7 linked regions of the Homo sapiens genome follow. The protein of the gene in region 4 interacts with the protein of the main gene of each other region in a pairwise test. Each region holds a gene or a part of one and is shown on either strand. Other genes may lie near its edges.

Region 1 (3,706 bases), on a different chromosome or scaffold from region 4:
CAAGCAAAGAAAGAAAAAATAAATCTTGTTTACACGCAGTTATAACAATGAAAAAAGGATATTTTGCATGTGGACAAAAAATTAAAAGGAGCATAGAAAAGTCAAAGGTTTCCCCCCTTTGTGAATCAGTTAACACTACTCGTATAATGAAAAACAAAAATAAGAAACTGAGTTCCTTTTGGCATACAATCCGTAGAAAACCTGTAAGTCGCTCTTTGTCCTAATTTAAGTGGATGCTGTGAACGTGAAGTGATACCAGGACTGGGTTGTGGTGCACTTGAGCCCTGACTGCACCACATGGGGAAAGTACAGAACAATAAGCGAGACTCATTGTTGCCCAAGAACTATCATTTATGCTATCTCAAAACAAAACAAACATACTCTACATTCCACATATCTGTAGGGCATCAAGATCTCAGCATCATATCTTTAAATCATTGGATCCCAAAGGGAAAGTAAAATTGCATGAAGGAAAAATACCACACAGTGGGGAAAAATACTCCTTTTTGTAAGTCTTTATTTTTTAGTTGCTCCTCCCATAGTAATGCACTGAAAGGCATAACAGTTTATATTGTACAAAGCATTTGAAGAAAGTACCTCAACTTGCTGATTATTTCAAAATGAGATTACAAACAAAAAGAAAACAAATCTGGTTCCTCAATAAAGGGCAAAATAACTGAATACAGTCTGTTATTTACTTCTCTCTTTTAACATAAGGTTGGGAACACTTCATTTTACAAATAGGATTAACATGAACATAACATCGCACAAGCTTGCAGACAACCAGCATAAAATATGGAGTACAGTTTTTAATCAGAAGAATCATGCTTCCATGAAAGAAATTATAATCGTTTATACAATTGAATCGATTTCAGTATTACAAAAACTAAGTTGCATCTATTCGTATTTAGTTCATTAAGAAGGAAAACAAAACAAACAAACAAAAAGGAATGTTAAGAAAAGCCAAACACCATTTGGCACTCTCATACACAGGTCGGGTCACCTTGGTCCTTGAAATTCGGAAAGGGGTGTGCCTCAGACGTCATAAAGTAGTGGCTGACTGGAACAGTGCTATTTTAATCAACAAACAATAGTTTGCCAACAAATAAATACATGATACACGCAACACACACAAAAAAATAAACATTAAAAACAGTGACATGATTGTCTAAAATTAAGATGTTATTACAAGGATTTGGCAAACAATTTATTAGTGGTACAGCGGTACTGGTGATGAATAGGTTACTTCACTGACTTAACCTCTTTGAGTGTTAACATCCATAGTTTACAATATACACATACCCTTTTTCCCTAGTTTTAAACAATGTACTTAAGAAGGCAAAAGGGGGAACAAGTACTCCCTGTTATCAGTTTCTATAATAATTGACTGTGCATTTCATCCAACTACTTCTGTCTTCAAAGGGTTAAATTACATAAAACTTTAACGAAGAAAAAAATTAAATCTGTAATTAAAAGCAACTGTTCCCAATCATGTCAGGTGATCTTGTACAAAAGAGAATTCAGTTTCTATGGAGTGTTCATTCATATCAATGCTGCCATCTCAACTGCCCTTCTCACCCACCCATACCCTAAGGTGGGGTAAACTGGAAGATGCCTTCAGCCCACCAAGTTTTTTGTTTTCACTGAATCACTTTAAGTCGCATTGATTGATCTTCCAGAAGTCAGCAGCTGCCTTTGCTGTGCAAAACAAAATATCGAGAATAAATAGTTTCTTTTTTCTTTCTTTTCTTTTTTAAATCATTCAGTTTAAGGTCACTAGACTTTAGATGAGTGACCCTGCAGGTTTATAAGGCATTCTGCTCAGCAGTCTTGTAAATAGTCCTATATGAAAGAGCCATGCTACTGTTGGACTTGGTCCCACTCTGGTCAACCTTGATAACGTCATACGTGGCTTATGGACTGGATAGCACTGGATTCCGCCGCAGCCCTGGCCATACTGTGCCACACGTTGGAAGAACTGTGGGATGTAGAATGGAGGGACTCCTTGTCAGACAGTGACAGCATCATAGCATATGCCTGGGGTAAAAAGGAGAGAGACTCAGTAAATGGCATTTGAAAAACATCACTTTTAGTTCAAAGAATATTGTTGGTAAATGGAAAGGGATGGGACCCTGAGTAGGGGCATCCTTCATGGGTGTGTTTGGCAAAGAAGGCATATTTTTTGTAGAAACCACATGGGATTACTGCTGGCCTTTAGTGCCTAGGGGCCCCAAAAGTGACACACGCTACAGAACCAAAAAGAACTATCCTACCTAAAATGCAAATAGTGCTTCCATTGAGAAAAATGAGTCAGTCTCCTGTTCAACTATAAATACAGTCATCCATCCACTACATATGTTCAATTCACCAAAAATATTATTGTGTGCTTATGACTGAAACCTCAAATATTAATAAGATATAGACCTACCTTGACAGAGCTGTGGCCTAGTAGAGGATACAGCCTGACTCCTACACTTTATAACCGAAAGCACTGAAGGTGCTTGAGTGACTTGCCCAAAGTCACTCAATTAGATAGATAGTGGGAGAAGCATAACTAAAATGTATTTCTGCCCAACTTTTAATCCATTGTCTTTTCTCCAATTTCCCTCCATGCTTGACATACTCAGTCCTGGCACCCATAAGTTGAGGTGGATCAAATCAGCTCTACCAAAAAAATAAAACCAAACACAAGACCCAACAGTGTTCTAATCAACTTGTTTTCCAGTGTCTGCTGAGCAGAAGGTGCATGGAGGTGCTCTGTGAGGAAGTACTCTTTCTTCCCTATTATCATGTCAAATTTTAAATAACTGTTCAGAGAGTCCCCTATTTACTGCCAAGCAAAATATTCAAATGAAATGTTTGGTCTTGACTTGTAAGTGAACTTTTCACTGTTGATTTGCTATTGTTGGTCTCATCCATTGCTAAACTTGCTTGTCAAAATGCTGCTGAAGTGGAATCATTAAAGTCCTGCCAAAGACATTCCACTGTCTGTAAACAAAGACAAAATGCCTCTGTTGTTAGGCAGAATTTCATCTCTGGGAGTCATGCTGAGACATGTGGCCAGTCTGTGGTTTCTTCCGTAATCATTGCATTTAGTTAGAAAATTTACCCTTGTAGGCTGATTTTTGATTTGCTGGGTCATCGCTCTAAATGTACACATTTGACTTTTATGTATGCAATTTGCCTTTTGGACTTCTACAATATCTCATGATCCATTTAACAAATATTTCTTAAGCATCTACTCTATGCCAGGCTCTGTGATAGATCCTAAGAAATTAAGAATAAATAATATAGAGTACTTATCTTTGGCAGAGTTTAAAGTATGGGTTAAGTGAGCATTCAACCTAAATTATCTATTCTGATTATGTACCTACTTTTAGAGAACAAGATAAAGAGTACTCTGAAAGAGTTAAAACAAATTCTGATATTTGGGAAGATAAAAAGGAGTACAAAGAAAATTTTGGAATTTAAATTTTAATCCTGCCTTTAAACCTGCCTCTACTCACCTAGCTGTGTGATCTTGAGCAAGTTGCTTAACCTTTTAAGCTTTACTTTCCTCCTATAAAACAGATGATAGTAATAACAGTATTGGCCTCCAAGAGTTGTGGAGGAATCACATGCACTAACTTACATAAAGTGTTTAGCTCAGTGTGCCTGACTGAGGTAATACATAAATAGTACCTATTACCATGAAATTAATTTTTAC
Region 2 (3,033 bases), on a different chromosome or scaffold from region 4:
TTTTTGAGACTGAGTCTCGCTCTGTCGTCCAGTGGCGCAATCTCAGCTAACTGCAACCTCCGCCTCCCGGGTTCAAGCAATTCTCCTGCCTCAGCCTCCTGAGTAGCCGGGTCTACAGGCGCACACCGCCACACCTGGCTAATTTTTTGTATTTTAGTAGAGACAGGGTTTCACCATGTTGCCCTGGCTGGTCTCGAACTCCTGAGCTCAGGCAATCCGCCCCCCACAGCCTCCCAAAGTGCTGGGATTACAGGCATGAGCCACTGCACCCGGCCTGGGTTCTTTATTAAAGCAATGAATTCTGGATGTCCTGGCTTAACTAGATTAAGAGGGAATGAAGCTTCTTCTGAAGGATCAGTGTTACCACAGCCATTTCCTTGCATTACACCGTCCTTCTCAGGACGTCTATGAGAAGCCCTGGGCAGCCTGGACAGGGACTGCCCCATGAGTGCTGGTGGCTCACTTGGGGCTTTCTGCAGGTGAAGGAAGCAGCCCTGGGAGCTTCTTCCTTTGGCACACAGTGGGCTTCAGCTGGGACTGCACCAATCCTCTGCTAACAGCAACCATCCTTGGGGGGTCCGAGGGAGCAGCTGCGTGACTTTTCAGCAGTGGCTATGGTCACTCCTGAGGCCTGGGAAGAGGGTCACTGTCCAGCAGAGCTGGCCTGCTCCAGAGTGATCTGGACCTTGTGCCCCTTAACACAAGAAGGCCCGACTCCAAAGGCCAACACTGTCCTCTAAGTTTCCAGGACACTAAATGGCCACTTGGTCCTGGTTAACTCATTTCTAAACACAAAGGGGACAGGTCTGAGAAAGTGGCGTTCTCTACCCTACCCTGAGCTCATCTGTTCTGAGGACAAAAGGGACGGGTGTGTCCAGGCTGGTGGCAAAGGCTGCATTTCCGGGGTTTCTTTGCTGTGGACCCCATGTCTGAGGAACTGGCCCGGGGCCTTTTGCTTCTGGCTTCCGACTCCAGGGTTCTTCCTCTGTCTCCTGTCCAGGACGGGGCTCCAGAAGTCCCTGTCGGGAGAGTCAGGGGAGGGGTGAGGTTAGAACTGACATGCAGAAGTGGCAAGTCCTGAACACGGTGGCTCATGCCTGTAATCCCAGCACTTTAGGAAGCTGAGGGAGGAGGATTGCTTGAGCCCAGGAGTTCAAGATCAGCCTGGGCAACATGGTGAAACCTTGTCTTTAAAAAATGCAAAAATTAGCCAGGTGTGGTGTATGCCTGTGGTCACAGCTACTCGGGAGGATGCCTGAGCCTGGGAGGCTACAGTGAGCTGTGATCACACCACTGCACTCCAGCCTGGGCAACAGAGCAAGACCCTGTCTCAAAAAAAAAAAAAAAAAAAAAAAGAGCAGCAGACGATAAGGCTGAACCAACTTTTTTTTTTTTTTTTTTTTTTTTTGAGATGGAGTCTTCGCTCTGTCACCCAGGCTGGAGTGTGGAGTGCAGTGGCGTGATCTCCACTCACTGCAAGCTCCACCTCCCGGGTTCACGCCATTCTCCTGCCTCAGCCTCCCGAGTAGCTGGGACTACAGGCACCCGCCACCACGCCCGGCTACTTTATTTTTTGTATTTTTAGTAGAGACGGGTTTCATCATGTTAGCCAGGATGGTCTCGATCTCCTAACCTTGTGATCCGCCCGCCTTGGCCTCCCGAAGTGCTGGGATTACAGGCGTGAGCCACCGTGCCCGGCCTTTTTTTTTTGAGGTGGAGTCTGGCTCTGTCGCCTAGGCTGGAATGCAGTGGTGCAATCTTGGCTCACTGCAAGCTCCGCCTCCCGGGTTCACGCCATTGTCCTGTCTCAGCCTCCCGAGAGTAGCTGGGACTACAGGGACCGACCACCATGCCCGGCTAATTGTTTGTATTTTTAGTAGAGACGGGGTTTCACTGTGTTAGCCAGGATGGTCTCGATCTCCTGACCTCGTGATCCACCCGCCTCGGCCTCCCAAAGTGCTGGGATTACAGGCATGAGCCACCGCGCCCGACCGGCTGAATCAGTTTTTATACAGCCATGTACACCCCACCAGCCAGCCTCCCTTCACACTGTGTCCAACTCTGTAAGGTTGAGGTGCGATGTGCCTGCTGCCTTATGTTACCTGACACCTCTCCCTCAAGAATCCTAAGCTTTGGAGACATTGTCCCACACTCACTTGGTAAGTGGACTTTCATGCCGGCCCTTTTTACAGAGGCAGAAACCCAAGCAAGCTGGCCTGTGTGGTAGGGTGGGAAAGACAAGCAGCCTATGACCGGCAACCTGCGGCCCACCTCCATGCAGGAAAGTCCAGCTCTGGATCCCTTCCTGTCCCCTCAACAGGCCTTTCCAGACCAGCTGCTCATTTACCCAGGACAGTCAGTCAGCCAGCCTGGAGGTCAGATACCATGTCCTTCCAAGTGGGGAGACAAGAGGCCAGACTGCATCTCACTTCAAATGTGGGTCTCTCACTGCAATGGCCATCTCTGGGCCCCATTAGCACTGGTAGCCAGTTCCAAGTCCCACAGTTTTTACCAAACCTCTGGTTTCTTTCTGTGCATGCCGGGCTAGTGACACATGTGTAAGAATCATAGTCTGAGACTAAACTCCTTTCTAAAACAGGAACCCTATGAATGTAGGCAGGGACCATCTTGTTGAGCAAACTTGAGGCAGAGAGGCTAAGTCATTTGTTCAAGGTTATACTGCTGAGCTTTGGAACCAGATTTGCTCAACTCCAAAGCTCCCACTAGGCCTTTGGGTCATTCTCAGCTACTTAAGCTCTGTTGTGCACTGGAGCAGGAGGAACCATTCAAAGTGCCTCCACGTACACCATTCAACTTGATGCAATGTCCAGGTGCCACTTCTCATGACACCCAGTTCCCGGACATTGGCCCAAGCTGTGTCACCCTGGGCAGGTTCCTAAATATCATCGGGGTTGGCATCTTCATCTGAAGAAATGAGGCTGGGCCAGGCACGGTGGCTCACGCCTGTAATCCCAGCACTTTGAGAGGCCAAGGCAGGTGGATCACCTGAGGTGGAGTTCGAGACCAGCCTAA
Region 3 (3,500 bases), on a different chromosome or scaffold from region 4:
GTTCAAGGCCTCCCTAGGAAACATAGCAAGATCCTCTCTCTTTAAAAAAAATAAACTTTCCAATGAATAAGCTCAACAGTTCAAGACCTTAAATGCCACATTTCAAGAAGACTTCAAATATCGGTGTTTTTATGTCTTTTCATATTTTTTGAAGTAAAATGTTTGGAATTTCCTCTAAAACAAAGGGGGTGGGCCACAGTGTCACCAGAGAAAGCAAGGCTGGTGGTGTGCTGGTAGCTGTTGAAGGTGGCAAGCTTACACTGGGTTCCTTCTGATTGGTTTGGTTTTGTTTTGTTTTTTGGAGACAGTCTCGCACTGTCGCCCAGGCTGGAGTGCAGTGGCGCAATCTCGGCTCACTGCAACCTCTGCCTCAAATTGGGTTCTTTAAAAAAAAAAAAAATTTTTTTTGTTGTAAATAAGGGCCAATTACCTGACCACATGCAGATACACTTAACCAAGTGCCCACTTCCAGGGTTCAGTTAGTCCATCCCTAACCTTGGAAAAGCCTCGGCCTTTGCTCACAACAGGCCACCCAGCACTGCAGCAGACAGGGGCACTGTGTGGCTTTCCAGTTCTGTCACTGTTCCCCCACCCCAGGCCCCATGCACAGCCTTTACTTCCCCCATGGAACCCTGACTGCATCTAGGCGACAGCTGACCTCTGACCCCTCACCCATTTGTGAACTAGGCCAATGGATCTGACTTCCAGTAACATAGAACACCTCTGCTCCAGACCTAGGAGGGGAAAACAGGCCTGAAACTGGAAATCTAAATTTTAGCTGTATGTTCCATCCCCTCTTTTTGGGAACTAATGACATCCTCTCAAGCAGTAAAGCTGACTCCACTGGAATGGTATTGTTTAAGCCAGTGGGGGTGAGCAAGGTCAGAATGATCACACACAACGGGGGCAAGCACGCCACATGCACAGTGACCTGAGTCCCGCAACCTCCTCTCTCCCAGGTTCCTCAAACCCAGGATGTCTAGTCCCGCTTTTAAAACAGCCATCCTAGGAGAAACTACTAGAAGCCCTGGAGCTCCCCAGCACTCGTGGTTACCTAAATCAATTCAAATCTTCACGAGAAAAGTAAAAATCTCTTAGAAGGGCCCAAAATCCAGTAGGCATCAAAAACAAGTCACTTGAGTCCATACTGTGCTACCCTGAGGAGGATCCCAACACCCACTCCGCATTCCGGCATGCCCGCTCAGGGTCCTTCAGCAGCTCGCTGTCACTCACCATCCGACAGCACTTCATATGCCTCCGCTACTTGCTTGAATTTTCTCTCTGCTTCTTCTTTATTCTCAGGATTTTTATCTGGATGCCACTTCAGTGCCAGTTTCCGATATCTTGGAAAGAATAAAGGATATAGATCACATTCTAAATCCAGAAATCAACTATGCTTTTGAAACTAACATCATTAACCACGAGAATGGCTTCAGAGCTGCCAACTGGTGAGATGAATACTGGTTTTAACTGTAAAACCTCCCTTTCCTCTACAATGAAATACACAAAGTTCTAAAATCCAGATAGCCAGGCGTAGTGGCGTGCAGCCACAGATAGACCCAGCTACTCCAGAGGCTGAGGCGTGACAACTGCTTGAGGCCAGGAGTTCAAGGCTACAGTGAGCTATGATCACACCACTGCAGTCCAGCCTGGGCGACAGAACAAGACTGTCTCAAAATTAAAATTGTAAAAATACTCATTAAAGTAAGTTTTAGAATAAAAATCCTGATAGCATAATACAAACGAACCTCTAGAGATAGAAAAATAAAGATCACAGTGTCCACAACGTGGACTGACAGTGACAAGACTGAGCAAGTATGTGAAGTAAAGGAGAAAGGCCAGGCGTGGTGGCTCATGCCTGTAATCCCAGCACTTTGGGAGGTGGGCAGATCACCTGAGGTCAGAAGTTCGAGACCAGCCTGGCCAACATGGAGAAACCCCAACGCTACTAAAAATACAAAATTAGCCGGGCATTGTGGTACTTGACTGTAATCCCAGCTACTCAGGAGGCTGCGGCAGGAGAATCACTGGAACCTGGGAGGCAGAGGTTGTGGTGAGCCGAGATCGCACCATTGCACTCCAGCCTGGGCAACAAGAGCGAAACTCCGTCTCAAAAAATTTTTAAAAAGGGAAAAAAAGGCCTGGGTCACTGAGCAGCAAGATCCAACATCACCATTCATATCCTTCCATGTTCTGATTCCCAGGACCCTACTTCCTCAGCCAGCCCCACTACCTAGCTCATCTGTGTGCCAAAGGTGAATCACCTGCCACCCAACAGGCCAGGATCTCAGAATCTTTCAAACACCCTCTGTGCCAGATTCAAGATCTAAACAGAGTTAAAACACTGACTTCTACAAAGATTCTATGACCAAGGTCATATTCTGTTGCAGAGTTCCAACTGACCAAATAATTGCACGCTATTTAAATACAAAAAAAAAGGCCGGGTGCAGCGGCTCACACCTGTAATCCCAGCACTCTGGCAGGCCGAGGTGGGTGGATCACCTGAGGTCAGGAGTTCGAGACCAACCTGGCCAACATGGCAAAACCCCATCTCTACTAAAAATACAAAAAGCCGGACATGAAGGCACGCACCTGTAATCCCAGCTACTCAGGAGGCTGAGACAGAAGAATTGCTTGAACCCAGGAGAAAGAGGTTGCAGTGAGCCAACATCGTGCCACTGAACTCCAGGCTAGGTGACAGAGCGAGCCTCCGGCTCAACATGAATGCATGAATGAATGAATGAATGAATGAATGAATACAAAAAAATCCTCTAGTCTAATTAGCAAAACCTAAGCAGCATATATTCAAAAGGAGGGTAACGTTAAAAAAGAGAAGCAGCATACCCCTCAAAATTTCAGACTAGTATACTAATCTGACAGTGCTTTTAACACTAGGCAAGTTATTACTGTAAAGCTGTTGTGGCTCAATTTAACTTACAACATGTTCAACAAAACCTTGGCTTAACCATACTAAAATCTGATTAAAGCTGGAGTCCAGAATACTTAACAGTAATTTATGTCACTGTGGACCTAAACAAACATGTAGCAGCCGGGCGCAGTGGCTCATGCCTGTAATCTCAGCACTTTGGGAGGCTGAGGCAGGCAGATCACGAGGTCAAGAGATCGAGACCATCCTGGCCAACATGGTGAAACCCCGTCTCTATTAAAAATATAAAAATTAGCTGGGCATCATGGCAGGCGCCTGCAGTTCCACCTACTCGGGAGGCTAAGGCAGGAGAATCGCCTGAACCTGGGAGGCAGAGGTTGCAGTGAGCCGAGATCACGCCATTGAACTCCAGCCTGGGTGACATAGCGAGACACCGTCTCAAAAAAAAAAAAAAACGTGTAGCAGTGGATCAAATAACCCTAAATGTGCCAGAAATCCTCAGTCAAAAATAACAGACCATACAAAAGACAAAAGAGAAAAAATGATTAGTGTGCAGTACTACCTATCATCTAGTGTTCATATGAAAACTTGGCAATGGATGAGAATGCAGGAC
Region 4 (3,500 bases):
TAACACCCACAGTATTAGTATGACATGAACTGTGGAGATATATCAGTAGCAATGGCACCAACTCACCTGTAGTGAGTTGACTACAGGTGAGTTGCAAAACCAAAAAACCCACCATCACTAACACGAACAAACAAAAAAACAGAATTTACTAGGCATGTCCATGTTTTATTTTCTTTAGGTGTTTTTCTGGAAAATTACATTTTCAAGGAATCAGCCCTTACAAACAGAGCTAATCTTTCAAAAAATAAAACCCAGTATCTAGATTCTCAAAACTTACAAAACCAACTGGAAATGTCTGGTTGTCATGCTCAATTCAGTTTCACATCACAAGTAATCATCTATAACTATTTCAGTAGGCAAATTCCAATTCTAAATATTACTAACGATTACCATTGTTATTCTCAACTGTGTTGACAATTGTCTTATTGCTGAATTGTTCATAATACATCTTCTTTGGCAACTTTATTAACACCATGGGACAACTAAAGGTCTGGATTAACTTAGTATTTCAAAACTTCATTATAATTATTTAAAAGTAAATGCTAGACTTAAATTATTTAAATTTAAATGCTAGATTTAAATTATTTAATTTTAATAAAATTTAAATTTAAATGCTAGAATAGGAAAGCCTCCAAACATGCCTAATATAACAAAAACAAAAATTGCTAAATAATCACTACTAAAAGCATTTCCATTGTATGTACAAGTATATAACTCAACTTTACCAACAAAAATATTATAATTTAGCTCCAATTCTCTATCAGACCTACTGTGATTAAAAAAAAACAAAAAATAAATGGAGAAAGCAACATCTGGGCACCTGTCAAATTTTTATGGAAGGTTGTTTTATATAAATTTTAAATGGCTTAAAATCAGCCAGAATGCGAATTTTTCACTATAATACTTTATAAACTTGTACTTTCTTTTTTCTTTCTTTCTTTTTTTGAGATGGAGTCTTGCTCTGTTACCCAGGCTGGAGTGCAGTGGCGCAATCTCGGCTCACTGCAACCTCTGCCTCCCAGGTTCAAGCGAGTCTCCTGCCTCAGCCTCCCAAGTAGCTGGGATTACAGGCACATACCACCATATCCAGCTAATTTTTGTATTTCTAGTAGAGACGAGGTTTCGCCACGTTGGTCAGGCTGGTCTTGATCTCTTGACCTCGTGATCTGCCTACCTCGGCCTCCCAAAGTGCTGGGATTACAGGCGTGAGCCACCACGCCCAGCCTAAACTTGTACTTAAATTATATATTGATAGCTTATTCATTTTTAATTCTTGTTCCATGGAATAAGCCTATTTTTGAGGCTTGGCACGATATTAACAAGAAATTTAAACAGGACGCTCATGTCCAGAAGTTTAACTAAAAAATCTTTTCTATATATAATATAACTACCAACTTAAATTACAAATTGCTTCCACTAAAAATTATCACTCCAAACTTCAGAAAAAGTAAATTAAAATAGGTTATGGCAAAAGGTACACTCTGAAGCATGTTCACATTACAAAGATAAATGATAAAGGTTAACCAGCAAAAATTCAAAAAGGCATATATGCAAACATCTGTATGCAAACTTTCATGAATAAGATATAAGAAATGATTCATTTGGCTAATTTTATGTACAGCTTGTATACAATTTAAAACAAGTACAACTGAATATGTTTCTATGTAAAAGCCACAATAAAGTTAAATGAAATACTAAATAAGTCTTACAAATTGGTCTCTTAGGAGTTCTCAAAAGAATTAGTAACTGAGTAACGTTAGATTCTAAGAAATGCCCTCTTCTTGATCTATCATTTCTGTTTTAACTGAAAACACATCTGCCAACATATGTTTTGGAATTTCTGACCCTCTGACTTTCAAGGCATAACAAGCATTCTCCACTTTGGCCAAACTTTGTTTCAAGGTATACAGCTTCTTAGAAACCTCGTAAGGTCCAGTGTTGCCAATGAATGAAAACCCATCATAAACCTGACGTAAAAACTGGCTCACTTCAAAGGGGGTATCAATGTCCCCATTCCCCACACTGTTAATACACATCCGCATCAATTCTCCAGTTAAGTCAGCCACTCCCAGAAGGTAATCGACAGGTGTGACTCTCAGTCTCCAAGTACCAAACTGCTTATCCTGTGCATCAGAGGAGGGCTGGTAAAAAAACAAAACAAAACAAAAACACACACACACACACACAAGAAAGAACACTGTGAAAAAGAGTGAATATAGCATGTATCACATTTATTATAGAAGTACAAAATCAATAGCAAATCAGTCATACTAATTTTTTCTAAATAAAATAAATCTGTTTTGCTTAATAACCACTTGGGATGTTACAGGAGGAATGTGTGCCCTGGGTAGTGAAATGAACCAGATGACTTCAAGATACTTTTGAAATATATCATTATGAAACCAACTATTTCCAACTCCACTTGATGTACAAAATAAAAATATTCTTGAACAAGGCTTAATAACTTTATTGCACGACAATTACTTTCTTAAATGAAAAACCATACAGCCCTCCAAGTTTGTGATCCATTAATGTTTTCCTAAGAAGCTCAGTCTTTTTCTGGCTTCTTGTCTTTCCCTATTCAGCACTCACCATCACAATTTATTATTCTCTCACTGCATCCTCAATTCCCTTAGACTGCTATATTTTCTACTGCACCTACCCAGCAAAAACAGAATCCTCAATCAATACTAAAATATACTCATTAGTCCTTTATTCAGGTGGCTGAGTACCACTCACTGAGTTAAAAAAAAATGGTAATCACAACTGCAGAGTCTGTACCGCTACAAATTACTCTCCAATCCTTTTACTTATCATTAGATGGTTCTCTTTCCAGCCTCTTCAAACACAATTTCAAACCTTTCACCACTCTCCTCAGGGCTCTACTCAAATCCCAAACCTCTTCACTTTCAGTAGACAACCTTGCCCAATTTCAGTGACCTGGTCATTTGCCAGCTTACCTAGCACAATTTCTCACAACTGCCTTTATCCCTACCAAAAAAAAAAAAAAAAAAAATTTATATCCACACCCATCTTTACCTTCTATCCTCCAGTCTCAGATGATGAGTTGTCCCTCCTCTTGTTTGAGGTTAACTCTTCCAAATGACCTTGACCCATCTCCTCCCACCTCTTCCAGGACCTTGCTTCATAAGGTGTATGCCCTTGGGCAAGTTATTTCATCTCTCTAAACCTCAGTTTCCTCATCTGTAAAATGGGATAACAGTACCTACCTCAGAGGTTTATTTTAAGGGTTAAATGAGAACATTTACCAAGTTCTTGGCATAATGCCCAACACAAAGTAAATATTCAACAAATGCTAGCTGCTATCATGATATCATCATGAAATCTCTCTCCACATCAATTTCCCTCTACTGAATTCTTTCTGGTAGAGACGATGCCTAAATTGTTATTAAAAGACGGTATGTATAAAAGGGTAGGTGAAGTTGCAGTTACATCAAAGGACATTTTAGGTAGTGGGAACTACAAAGGCATACAGGTAA
Region 5 (3,500 bases), on a different chromosome or scaffold from region 4:
AGATTCGCTTGAACTCAGGAAATGGAGGTTACAGTGAGCCAAGATCGCACTACTGCACTCCAGACTGGGCAACAGAGCGAGACTCAGTCTAAAAAAAAAAAAACAAAAAAAAGAATAGGCCTATTTCCTTTTCTTAGAAAATGACAACTAAGTTATCTCAGTTTTTTCTCTTTTTGCCATGGCTTCCAGGAAGCTCACTTAGAGAGTCTGATCCATCAGCTTCAAGTGAGCTTCTCCTTCCCACATAGTCATGGGCTGACCTTCCTGGGACTACAGAGTTGTCTTCCAAGAGATGCTCAGAAAGGTGCTCAGGCTGGAAAATACATAGGACTCTGCAAGGTTCAGGGTTTCAGGGATACTCCACCCAGTCCGTAGGAGCCTTTTCCTGCTTCAGGCTCATTATGAAGAGCAAGGAGAAGCTCAGCAGGCTTAGAAGGGGCTCAGAACTACCCAGAATTCCCTGAGGATCAAAGAATCCTAGCAATTCAATAACTACCATTCACTCTAACCCTCCCGTTACAGATGGGGAAGCTGTGGCCAGAAGGTAGAAATCTGTCCAAGGTCACACAGGAACACTGGTAGAACTGAGACTTGAACTCAGGTCCCCTGAGTCCCAGAGATGTGTCATTATCATCATAATCATCCTCCTCCTCCTCCTCATCCTCACCCAATGTGGACCATGCCTTAAGCTATGGCTTTTCATGTATTTAATCCTTTCAACAACCCTGTGAGGCACCTTCATTTTACATGTGAGAAAACTGAGAATCAGAGAGGTAAAATGACTTATCCAAGATCTCACAGCCAGAATAGAGTGGATCCACAATTGAAACCCAAACTGCCTGGCTATAGAGACTGCTGCCTTCCTGCTACATACATGAGTAGTTCCATTAAATTACATAAATTGTTAAATTCCCAGTGGAATTTAGTACAGAAGAAAAAATAATTTATGCAGATGAGTTTATAAGTTTCCTTGGATCAGGCCATGAGAATGTCCCAAACTTCCTTATTTCCCTTCTGGCCTTGGCTGCCAAGAAGCCTGGAACCAAATGGAATGCCCCAAACCCATATCCTCACCAGCTAAGTGATATATGGACCACTCTGCTTTTGACAGGGCTCAGTCACTCTCCTCCTACCCAATCCCATGCTTGCTCAGGCCTAGACCCACCTCAGAGGCATAGGAATCATTGTCTTCAGCTCGGTAAGGCCTGAAGCTCCGGCTGGGGTCGGGCTTAGAGTCCAAGTCACCAGTGCGGAAAGCCTCTCGGATCCTGGGCTCCCATTCCGGCAGGTCCCTGAAGTCAGGTGGCTGCACCCAGAGGCACAGGCAGAACAAACCAAAGATCACCATGGGGAGGGGCCCGAGGGGTGCCAGAAACACCCACCCCAGGCCTCTGCGCTCCCTAAGAGGCTTGAACCACCCACCTGAGGGCTGGGACCCTGGTAGATTCACCTCTGCAACCCAGACCCAGCCCCAGCTGGGGGCACTGCTGCCGTTTAATGAATGTTTGCTGAAAGGATGAATGAGTAGGTAAGTGCGAAGTGATTTTCTGAATGTGTGCCTTGTGCACAAACCTTTTGAGTCAGCCCAAACTGTCCTATCACATGTGTGACCTCTGTTCATCCCTCTTTCAAGAAGAACCAAAAGGGAGATAACATAGAGCAGTCTATGGGCACAGTGGCATGTGCCTGTAATTCCATCTACAATTTGAGGCTACAGCGAGCTGTGATCATACCATTGCCCTCCAGCGTGGGCAACAGAGCAAGACTGTTTCTTTAAAAAAAAAAAAAAAAAAAAAAAAAAGGCAATGTGCTTGCTTAAAAAAGCAAGATGAAACCGGATCAACAGGTCTTGAGTTAAAGAAATTATGGCACATATCCACTGTATAGTTGTTAAAAAGAAAGTGCTAAATCTCAGAAGGGCACGATGGCTCACACCTGCAATCCCAACACTTTGGGAGGCCGAGGCAGGTGGATCACCTGAGGTCAGGAGTTCAAGACCAGCCTGGCCAACATCGTGAAACCCCATCTCTATTAAAAATACAAAAATTAGCCAGGTGTGGTGGGGCATGCCTCTAATTCCAGCTACCCAGGAGACGGAGACAGGAGAATTGTAATTTCAGCTACCCGGAAGGCGGAGACAGGAGGCGGAGGTTGCAGTGAGCTGAGATCGTGCCACCGCACTCCAGCCTGGGCGACAGAGTAAGACTCTGTCTCAAAAAAAAAAAAAAAAAAAAAAAAGATAAAAGAAAAAAAGAAAGTGCTAAATCGCTCTCTTTCCCTGGAAATGAAAAATTCCCTGCCATTGCTCTGAGGATGAAGATCAAACCTCCCGCATGCTCAGTGCAGTCCAGCTTCACATTGTCTCTTCACTCAGTGTCCTGGACACACCACGCTCCTTCCGCCTCTGATCTGAGCTGTGTCTTTGCACAGGCTATTTGCTCTGCTGAAAACACTGTGTTCCCCCAGCCATCCATCCCTCTGACCTCTGGTCAGATCAGAGGCCTTCCCTCAGCATAGGGTCTAGGTCAAGTTCCTTGTTCATAAAACCATGTACGCTTCCTTCAGATTCCTCTCTCAGTGTCTAATTGCACATTCACTGACATGATATTTTGGGTGACTCTGCCCCACTAGATGATAAGGACCATGAGAGGGGGAATCATATCTGTTTTTGCTAATCATGACATCTTCAGCAGTGAGCACAAAAACTGTGTGAACAACAGACAAGGCATCATAAATTAACAAACTGATACATTGCGTTAAAAATATAAGTTGTGTAGTAACAATAGATATAAAGCAATCTGGGTGGAAAAACAAATATATGATAGATGTGTAGAGAAGGATTTAGAAGGACAAGCTGCAAGGATGAAATATTCTAGATCCACTCTACTAGACACACACAAATACTGAACATTTAAAATGTGACTATTAGGCCACACACAGTGGCTCACACCTATAGTCCTAGCACTTTGGGAGGCTGAGGCTGGTGGATCACTTAAGCTCAGGAGTTCAAGACCAGCCTGGGCAATATGGCAAGATTCCATCTCTACAAAAAAATTTAAAAATTATGGCCAGGCACAGTGGCTCACACCTGTAATCCCAGAACTTTGGGAGACAAAGGCGGTCGGATCACTTGAAGTCAGGAGTTCGAGACCAGCCTGGCCAACATGGTGAAACCCCATCTCTACTAAAAATACAAAAATTAGCCAGGCATGATGGAGGGCGCCTGTAATCCTGGCTACTTGGGAGGCTAAGAGAGGAGAATCGCTTGAACCTGGGAGTTGGAGGTTACAGTGAGCCGAGATTGCGCCACTGCATTCCAGCCTGGGTGACAGAGCGAGACTCCGTCTCAAAAAAAATAAAAAATAAATAAAAATTAGCTGGGTGTGGTGGTGCTCACTTGTAGTCCCAGGTACTCAGGAGAGTGAGGGGGGGAGAATGGCTAGAGCCCAGGATATCGAGGCTGCAGTGAACTGAGATTGCACCACTGCACTTCAGCCTGG
Region 6 (3,500 bases), on a different chromosome or scaffold from region 4:
AAGAGGCTAAGGAGTGGGCAGGGCAGACTGTGAAGGGCACGCTAGTTTGTTTTCCTGTTCCTCAAACGGGCCATGCCCTCACCTGTGTCTGGGATGCTCATCCCCTCCTTTTTCCTTACCTACATCTGACTTATTCAGGTCTCCGCTCCAATATCAATTTCTTGGGAAACTCTAGCCTGACCCACCTCCACACCAGAGGAAATCTCCCTTTAATCCCCTCTCACAGCACTTGATACATCTTTGCTCCTGACACTGACCATACAAATTCTCATAAGGGTTTGTCTGTCTTCTCAGCTTAACAGTAACCACATTTGAGGTTGAATTTTAGCACTGAGCCCAGAGTCTGGCATGAAGCAAATGTATACTATCGGCTAAATTAAGAAATAGGCTGGCCAGGCACAGTGGCTCATGCCTGTAAACCCAGCACTTTGGGAGGCTGCGGCGGGTGGATCACCTGAGGTCAGAAGTTCGAGACCAGCCTGGCCAACATGGTGAACTCTGTCTCTACTAAAAATACAAAAATTAGCTGGGTGTGGTGGCACGTGCCTGTAATCCCAGCTACTCGGGAGGCTGAGGCAGAAGAATTGCTTGAACCCACGAGGCGGAGGTTGCAGTGAGCCGAGATCACACCACTGCACTCCAGCCTGGGCAACAGAGCGAGACTCCATCTCAAATCAGACTTGTTGGATTTTGCATTTAAAGTAAAAGTTGCCAATGAGTGCAGTGGCTCATGCCTGTAATCCCAGCACTTCGGGAAGCTGAGGCAGGTGGATCACTTGAGTCCAGGAATTCGAGACCAGACTGGGCAACATGGCAAAACCGTCCTGCAAAAAATACAAAAATTAGCCAGGTGTCGTGGCACACGCCTGTAGTCCCAGATACTAGGGAGACTGAGATGGAGAATTGCTTGAGTCCAAGAGGTCAAGGCTGCAGTGTGCGTGATCGCACCTCTGCACTCCCAGCCTGGGTGACAGGACAAGACCATGTCTCAAAAAAATAAAAAGTAAAAATAAAGTAAAAGTTAATAGGTTCCTCAGGAAAACATGAAGGTGCCCTGTAAGTTAAGGGATTTTCCAGAAATAAACCGTGGGACTCTTTTCCTGTCTGCTCCAAAATCTCCCTCCTCTTGCACATATCTCAGCACTGTGGAGAAGAGAAAAAAAAGAACAAGTCAAAATATCTTAGAGATATTTTGCAAAAACTAGCACTACCCACAGAGACGCTTAAGCATTCACTTTTTTCAGAAATAAAAATTATGAAGAATGCTTAGCTAGACCCAAACTGCAAAGTCTCCTCATAATCCAGCTTAAACACAGTACGCTACTTATTTACTCAGAGCCGTCTCCTGTGGTCTAACCAGCTATTTGTCTCCAAAGGGCAGGCCCGTGTAGGAATGCGGGGCCTCAGCCGGCAAACAGGATCCAGCAGCCTGCCAGGAAGGCCTTGGCACGCTACAGTCCAGATGGCAGCTCTCCTGGGCCTCCAGCCACTGGCCTAGCTGCCAATTCAATGTCCAGCCTCCGTGCAGTTGTTCAGTTCAGCAAACGCTCACTGAATCCCTATAGCTTTAGTAGCAACAAATGAAACTCATGAAGTATGGCCAAAAGGACAACAATTCCTCTAGTCCAGTGTTTATGAAAGGAGGTGGAAAGCAAATCAATACATACAAAAAATACTGAGCACCTACGGTGTGCCAGTTCAGGGAAGCCTCTGGGCCCCAGAGATATGAAAGCTCAAGATGCTCACAGTCCAATGTCTACTTTCCTTGTTCTTTACTCAAGAGAATGCCTGGTTTTGTGTACTTACGACCATTTCCCAACCCAGCATTGGGGTTGATGCCATCCAGGTCATCTGGTACACTGGGAACAAGGCCACTAGGAGAGAACACATGAGATAAGAGATGAGCTAATGTTTGAACAACAGAGACTGTTAAGACGGTCTGGACTGCACATGACAATCATCCCATGGCCAGGAGGGATGCACACAGCTGGGCTACCTATGTGGCATGAAGCACAGAGGTTAAGAACTCAGGCTTTGGGGCTGAGTTCCAGCTCCAACACTTGATAGCTGAGTGACCTTCAGTAACATCATTCATTCAGTCATACATCAAATGTTCTGTGTGCCAAATATGTGCTAGTGGCAGAGGCACTGTGACAAGTACAAGATACTTATGTTTCTGAGTCTCACCCTCTTAATCTGGTACATGAGGATACCATGCCCTCCCTGTAAAAATTAAATTCGTTCATGTATATAAACACAAAGCACATAGTAAGTATTCAGTAAACGGCAACTATTGTTGTTGTTACTATTATCATTATGACTACTAATATGCCTATCACCACCTCTGGGAATCAGACACCAATTTAGATGTTTTAAGAATGTCAAACAATGCAAAATTCACTGATCCAAGAAGTTGTCTTGGTTGAATTACATAAATAAATTCAGTGAGGATCTGGAGACACTGACAGAAAACTAACCCATAATAGGAGGTGTGGTGTGACACAAAAGACACTACCCTGATCTATTCTAAGCTCTGCCATGTATCTCTCTGAGCCTCACTTTCTTTAGCTGTAAAATGAGTACAGCAGCTACCTCACAGAGTAACTGGCAATTAAACAAGATATTGCAAGGTACCTTGTGGGTACTCCACAAATGGGAGCAAAATATCATGTCGCCTTGAAACCTACAGTGCTTTACAATTTATAAAAGATTTACCATCATTAGAATTGCCTAATTCCCTGAGGGTGCACACATTTTTCAAAGGAAGGCCCCAAGGCCCAGACAATTTTACTGTCCTAGCCAGGGTCACATGGCGGTTCTGTGGAGAGCCAGGTCCAGAAGCCAGGTCTTTTATGTCCAACTCCCACGAATACTTCCCTATCCCACACTGTAAAGTAGGAGTTGATGGAAACAGCTTGACTTCTTGGCAATTTGCTCTTTCCATGCCTCTAAATCCAAATTCATTGTGCTCCTAGGATAATTTTGCCTGACCACCAAACTTTGGAGTTGGAATGTACCTTCAAGATCAAAAACAGGCAAAAAATTGGAAATATCATAAAATTCCAACATTAAGAAAATGATCACAAAAAAATGTGTCCGGGCTGGGTGCAGTGACTCATGCCTATAATCCCAGTATTTTGGGAGGCCAAGGCTGGTGCATCACTTGAGATCAGGAGTTCGAGACCAGCCTGGCCAACATGGTAAAACCCCATCTCTAATAAAAATACAAAAATTAGCCGGGCATTGTGGCAGGTGCCTGTAGTCCTAGCTACTTGAGAGGCTGAGGCAGGAGAATCACTTGAACCCAGGAGGCAGAGGTTGAAGTGAGCTGAGATCATGCCACTGCACTCAAGCCTGGGTGATAGAGTGAGACTCCATCTCAAAAAAAAAAAAAATTTAAAAAAAAAAGTGTCCCCTGTAAAGGTAAATGAAAAAACGTAAACAGAATATGTCCTCAATTATGAAAACAAATATATACAGTACATAAATACTGAAGTCAC
Region 7 (3,500 bases), on a different chromosome or scaffold from region 4:
TAATTAGCCTCTCCTAAAATGTATCACTTTGAACCTTCATATATGAGCTCAACACAGTCCATAAATCTTATCAAGTTTTTCAAGTCTTCTTTCCCACTTTCCAGGAGGCTATTTCACACAGTCGATTTCATCTTCAACATCCAACTGCCCGCCTCTTATCTCAAGGTTGTGATCTGAGACCAGGAGGTACCAGTTGGGAGCCTCTGCATGCTCCTACCTCTGCTGCCTCAGGCCCAAGCTTTCCACTTCACCCTGTACCAACCAAAGGCCTCTTATTTTCTGAGTTCTATCTCCTTTTGCCTTTGCAAGAATTCCACCCCTCCATTCATCTCCTATCTCTTCATCAATTTCTTTTACTAAATTCCTTCCATACATTTGTCTCTCCTCCTAAAAACACCTCCCTTGACCCTCATCCTCTTTTAGCAACTCCCTCATTTTTCTGCTCCTTTTAGTGTCAAAATGTCTGAGAAAAAGTCGACCATACTCACTGGTTCAACTCACTGACTGCCTCATCGACAATTTCTTTCTGCTGTTGGATCACTTCTGTCAGTGTGCAAGCATTTGTTCTCCTGCTACTCCAGTCTGACCCTCAGTAAGCCCAGTGACAACTTCAGGGTTGCCAAGCCGGGTCCCCTGTGTCCTGTTCCTCCTCCAGCTCTCCACAGCATTCCATGTGGCTGGCCGTTCCCTCTGTCTTGAATCTTTGTGACTCTTCTGGCTTTCCTTTACTTCATGGGCTACTCTTTCTCAATCCCCTTTGCATCCTTCTCTACCTGACCTCCAGGCTCCCTGTTCTTCTGTTTCTAGATTATCTCACCCAGGTCCATGACTTTAAGGATCATTTATGCGCTGATGTCCCTCAAATTTATTGCTCTGTACTGACCTCTCCCTTGGGCTCCAAACATATATATTAAGCTTGACGTCTCCACCCAGATGACCCAAGCACCTCTAACCCAACATGTGTGGCAATGATTTCTCCATCCTGTACCCACTCCCCGACCCTGTTTCCCATCTTACTAAATGGCACTAACATCCACTCACGGCTCGGATAAAAAGCCCAGGAATTGTTCTCGCTTTCAATGGCCTTGACGTCACTGGTCTCTCCATCTTCACTCTCAACCCTGTCCCAAGCTGCCATACTCTTTCACTGGGAAACCGAAATCATTTTGTAAATGGTCTCTCTGTTTCTGTTCCATAGGCAGGGCTGCTCTGGGGAGGGGGGATCTGTGAAGGATCAGTTTCCTGTTGTGTAGATGACACAGTTGGCGCTAACTGGATTAATCGGATTACCCAAGGGGAGGCGCATGTGTCCCCTCCTTTCTGTCGCATTTCCCTCAGAAACAGCACTTCCATTCAGAAAGCCAGATCAAGTGCCATTAACAAATCAATTCTGATCTGCAGCCCAAGTGCTCAGACCTTGGGGCAATCCAGCCAGCCCTGAAGGGCGTGTCTTGGGCCTGGCCTGCTAATAAAGTGGAAACTATGCTGGAGGCAGAGGCGATTATTTTGATGCCTGTCTCTGTCCCTGAAGGGGAGAAGAGTGGGATTTGATTACACCATGGTCTCCCGAGGGAATTAACTCACTGCGGAATGCTAAGTTATTAATTCTCCAGCACGAGGTTAGGTCCGGGAGGGCAGTCAGCTCTCACACCCCTCTTTGGCTCCTGCAGCCCCCTATTTATGACAGCATTCAGGAGGTGCCCAATAATTGGATGAAAGAATAATTAATTGGTAAGTCGGGGAATAAGTCTGGGGCCTGGCATTTTTAATCACCCTTCACTCTTTTATTTAATAAATGTAACTGGGCCCAGACTGTGTTTCTCAGAAATTAAACCAAACAGACAAGGCCCCTGTCCTTCTGACCTTATAGGCAGTGGGTAGGAGGTGGGGGGAAAGGCAGATAATCAGCATTTATCAAACAAATGCAAAGTTGTCCTCAGAGAGTGAGCAACAGAGTCAAGGTAAGCGAACGGGCCACAGTGACAGAGTGTGCGGGAAGGATGCCCAAGGCAGGCCTGAGGCCGGACACCTGGGCTGAGCTCTGCGTGCGGCAAGGAGCCAGCTGGATCTGGGGGAAGACCCTTCTAGAGAGAGACCAGAAAATGCAAGTGGCTGTTAGAAAAAATAGGCCCAGTACATCCGGCTCAGGCCACCTTTGCTGGGCAGCTATTCTCCTCCTCACCCTGGGGGTAAGGTGGGTGTGTCCCTGCTGGGCCTCGGGCTTTGCCCAGGGTTGGTCTGCCTGCCTGGGTACCATCCTTCCCTCCAGCCTTTCTCACTCATGCCATGGGGCTTTGTTCCATTCCCACCTCTTCTAACAGAGCCTTTCACAATCCCACTCGGAAGGGCTCCGTCCCCTCTCTGAAGTCCTGGAGCACGTTTTTGACGCCTGTCTGAAGTGGGTCAGCACTGCATGCACCTGGATGTGAGTCTCCTCCCCATGCCCCCTCTTCCTGTTCCCATCATGGGGCTGCTCTTGGGTAGAGGCCTCAACTCCTTTGTCTCCCATACTCCCTGAGCCAAGCCCAGGGCCCTCAGTAACAGATGTGGAGAGTCTGAATAGATTGCCTGACCCAGTAAAATTCTGAGGGGTAAATAAAGACTCACAGAAGTCTTGCTTCTCATCCAGTGTCTCTAACATGGGCAAGGAAGGAGAGCATTCCATCAGCTCCTGGAATAGGACCAGCTTTGGATTTGAAAGTAGTTTCCAGAAGGGTGATGAAAAATTTTCAAGAATATTCCTGGCTTTCTTATGGGAATGCTTGGAGACTTTCATCAGAACAGTGCCACAAGATAAGGGACAGCTTGAAGATGAAGAGTCCCAGGATGGAGAGATCAGGTGAAAGAGGTGGTGAACCACTTTCCCAGAGGCAGGCTCCATCCCACACCCCCATTCAGCGACTCCCCCAGCCACTATCAGTGAGCGCCACCCACCAGGAAAACACACCTGCTCACTTGCAGCCAGCCTTCCTCCAGCTAACTCCCCCGCCCCGCCCAGTATTCTCAGACATCCCCAATTCCAGCACTAGTTAGTCCCACCAAGAAAGCCAGATACTGTCAGATGGAACACGAGGGCACAAAAGGTGGCTTCGGTGGCAAGGCACTGTGGCTGGCCGCAGGGCATGCTGTGGGCCCTGAGCTCCCACACTATGGCTGATGGGGATGAGGCCCTGGCCCAACCCTAGAGGAGGGAAAGCCAATGGGCACGAGCATGAGATGGGCATGGAGATGTGCTGGGCACTGCGGCTGACCTTTCACGAGGACCGTCCTGGCCTCGGCCCACTCGCTCCTCCCGTCAGACGTCAGCAGGCCAATTGGAGGCAAACGCTCGTCCTCGTTGGAAGCCATTTTGACTATCTTTCTCAACTGAGTGAACAGATCCCCCTCACTGAGACGGCGGAAATTAATGACAACATCCAAGACAAAGAACTGTGGGGTAAACAGGTCAAACATGTCACTTGTTGGGTGGCCCGTGGCACCAGGCCTTCACTCAGCCTTCA

What was found.
Region 1: the proteins of TSNAX (region 4) and MECOM interact in a two-hybrid assay, tested with the Homo sapiens proteins (one study listed by BioGRID).
Region 2: the proteins of TSNAX (region 4) and TOP3A interact in a two-hybrid assay, tested with the Homo sapiens proteins (one large-scale study listed by BioGRID).
Region 3: the proteins of TSNAX (region 4) and DNAJB6 interact in binary tests that used the Homo sapiens proteins (3 or more experiments, as listed by UniProt).
Region 5: the proteins of TSNAX (region 4) and MTCL2 interact in binary tests that used the Homo sapiens proteins (3 or more experiments, as listed by UniProt).
Region 6: the proteins of TSNAX (region 4) and CDK5RAP2 interact in a two-hybrid assay, tested with the Homo sapiens proteins (one large-scale study listed by BioGRID).
Region 7: the proteins of TSNAX (region 4) and CHAT interact in binary tests that used the Homo sapiens proteins (3 or more experiments, as listed by UniProt).

Annotation. Positions count from the first base shown.
Region 1 is NC_000003.12:169,083,007-169,086,712, forward strand, and holds the end of MECOM (histone-lysine N-methyltransferase MECOM), read right to left. Parts: intron 2,038-3,706; coding exon 1,903-2,037; 3' UTR 501-1,902; downstream 1-500.
Region 2 is NC_000017.11:18,273,962-18,276,994, forward strand, and holds part of TOP3A (DNA topoisomerase 3-alpha), read right to left. Parts: intron 1,020-3,033; coding exon 841-1,019; 3' UTR 1-840. UniProt on the Homo sapiens protein: Releases the supercoiling and torsional tension of DNA introduced during the DNA replication and transcription by transiently cleaving and rejoining one strand of the DNA duplex.
Region 3 is NC_000007.14:157,361,004-157,364,503, reverse strand, and holds part of DNAJB6 (dnaJ homolog subfamily B member 6), read right to left. Parts: intron 1,344-3,500; coding exon 1,234-1,343; intron 1-1,233. UniProt on the Homo sapiens protein: Has a stimulatory effect on the ATPase activity of HSP70 in a dose-dependent and time-dependent manner and hence acts as a co-chaperone of HSP70. Plays an indispensable role in the organization of KRT8/KRT18 filaments.
Region 4 is NC_000001.11:231,563,169-231,566,668, reverse strand, and holds the end of TSNAX (translin-associated protein X), read right to left. Parts: intron 2,142-3,500; coding exon 1,764-2,141; 3' UTR 145-1,763; downstream 1-144.
Region 5 is NC_000020.11:36,811,539-36,815,038, forward strand, and holds part of MTCL2 (microtubule cross-linking factor 2), read right to left. Parts: intron 1,307-3,500; coding exon 1,166-1,306; intron 1-1,165. UniProt on the Homo sapiens protein: Microtubule-associated factor that enables integration of the centrosomal and Golgi-associated microtubules on the Golgi membrane, supporting directional migration. Preferentially acts on the perinuclear microtubules accumulated around the Golgi.
Region 6 is NC_000009.12:120,570,168-120,573,667, forward strand, and holds part of CDK5RAP2 (CDK5 regulatory subunit-associated protein 2), read right to left. Parts: intron 1,875-3,500; coding exon 1,807-1,874; intron 1-1,806. UniProt on the Homo sapiens protein: Potential regulator of CDK5 activity via its interaction with CDK5R1. Negative regulator of centriole disengagement (licensing) which maintains centriole engagement and cohesion. Involved in regulation of mitotic spindle orientation.
Region 7 is NC_000010.11:49,627,537-49,631,036, reverse strand, and holds part of CHAT (choline O-acetyltransferase), read right to left. Parts: intron 3,430-3,500; coding exon 3,252-3,429; intron 1-3,251. UniProt on the Homo sapiens protein: Catalyzes the reversible synthesis of acetylcholine (ACh) from acetyl CoA and choline at cholinergic synapses.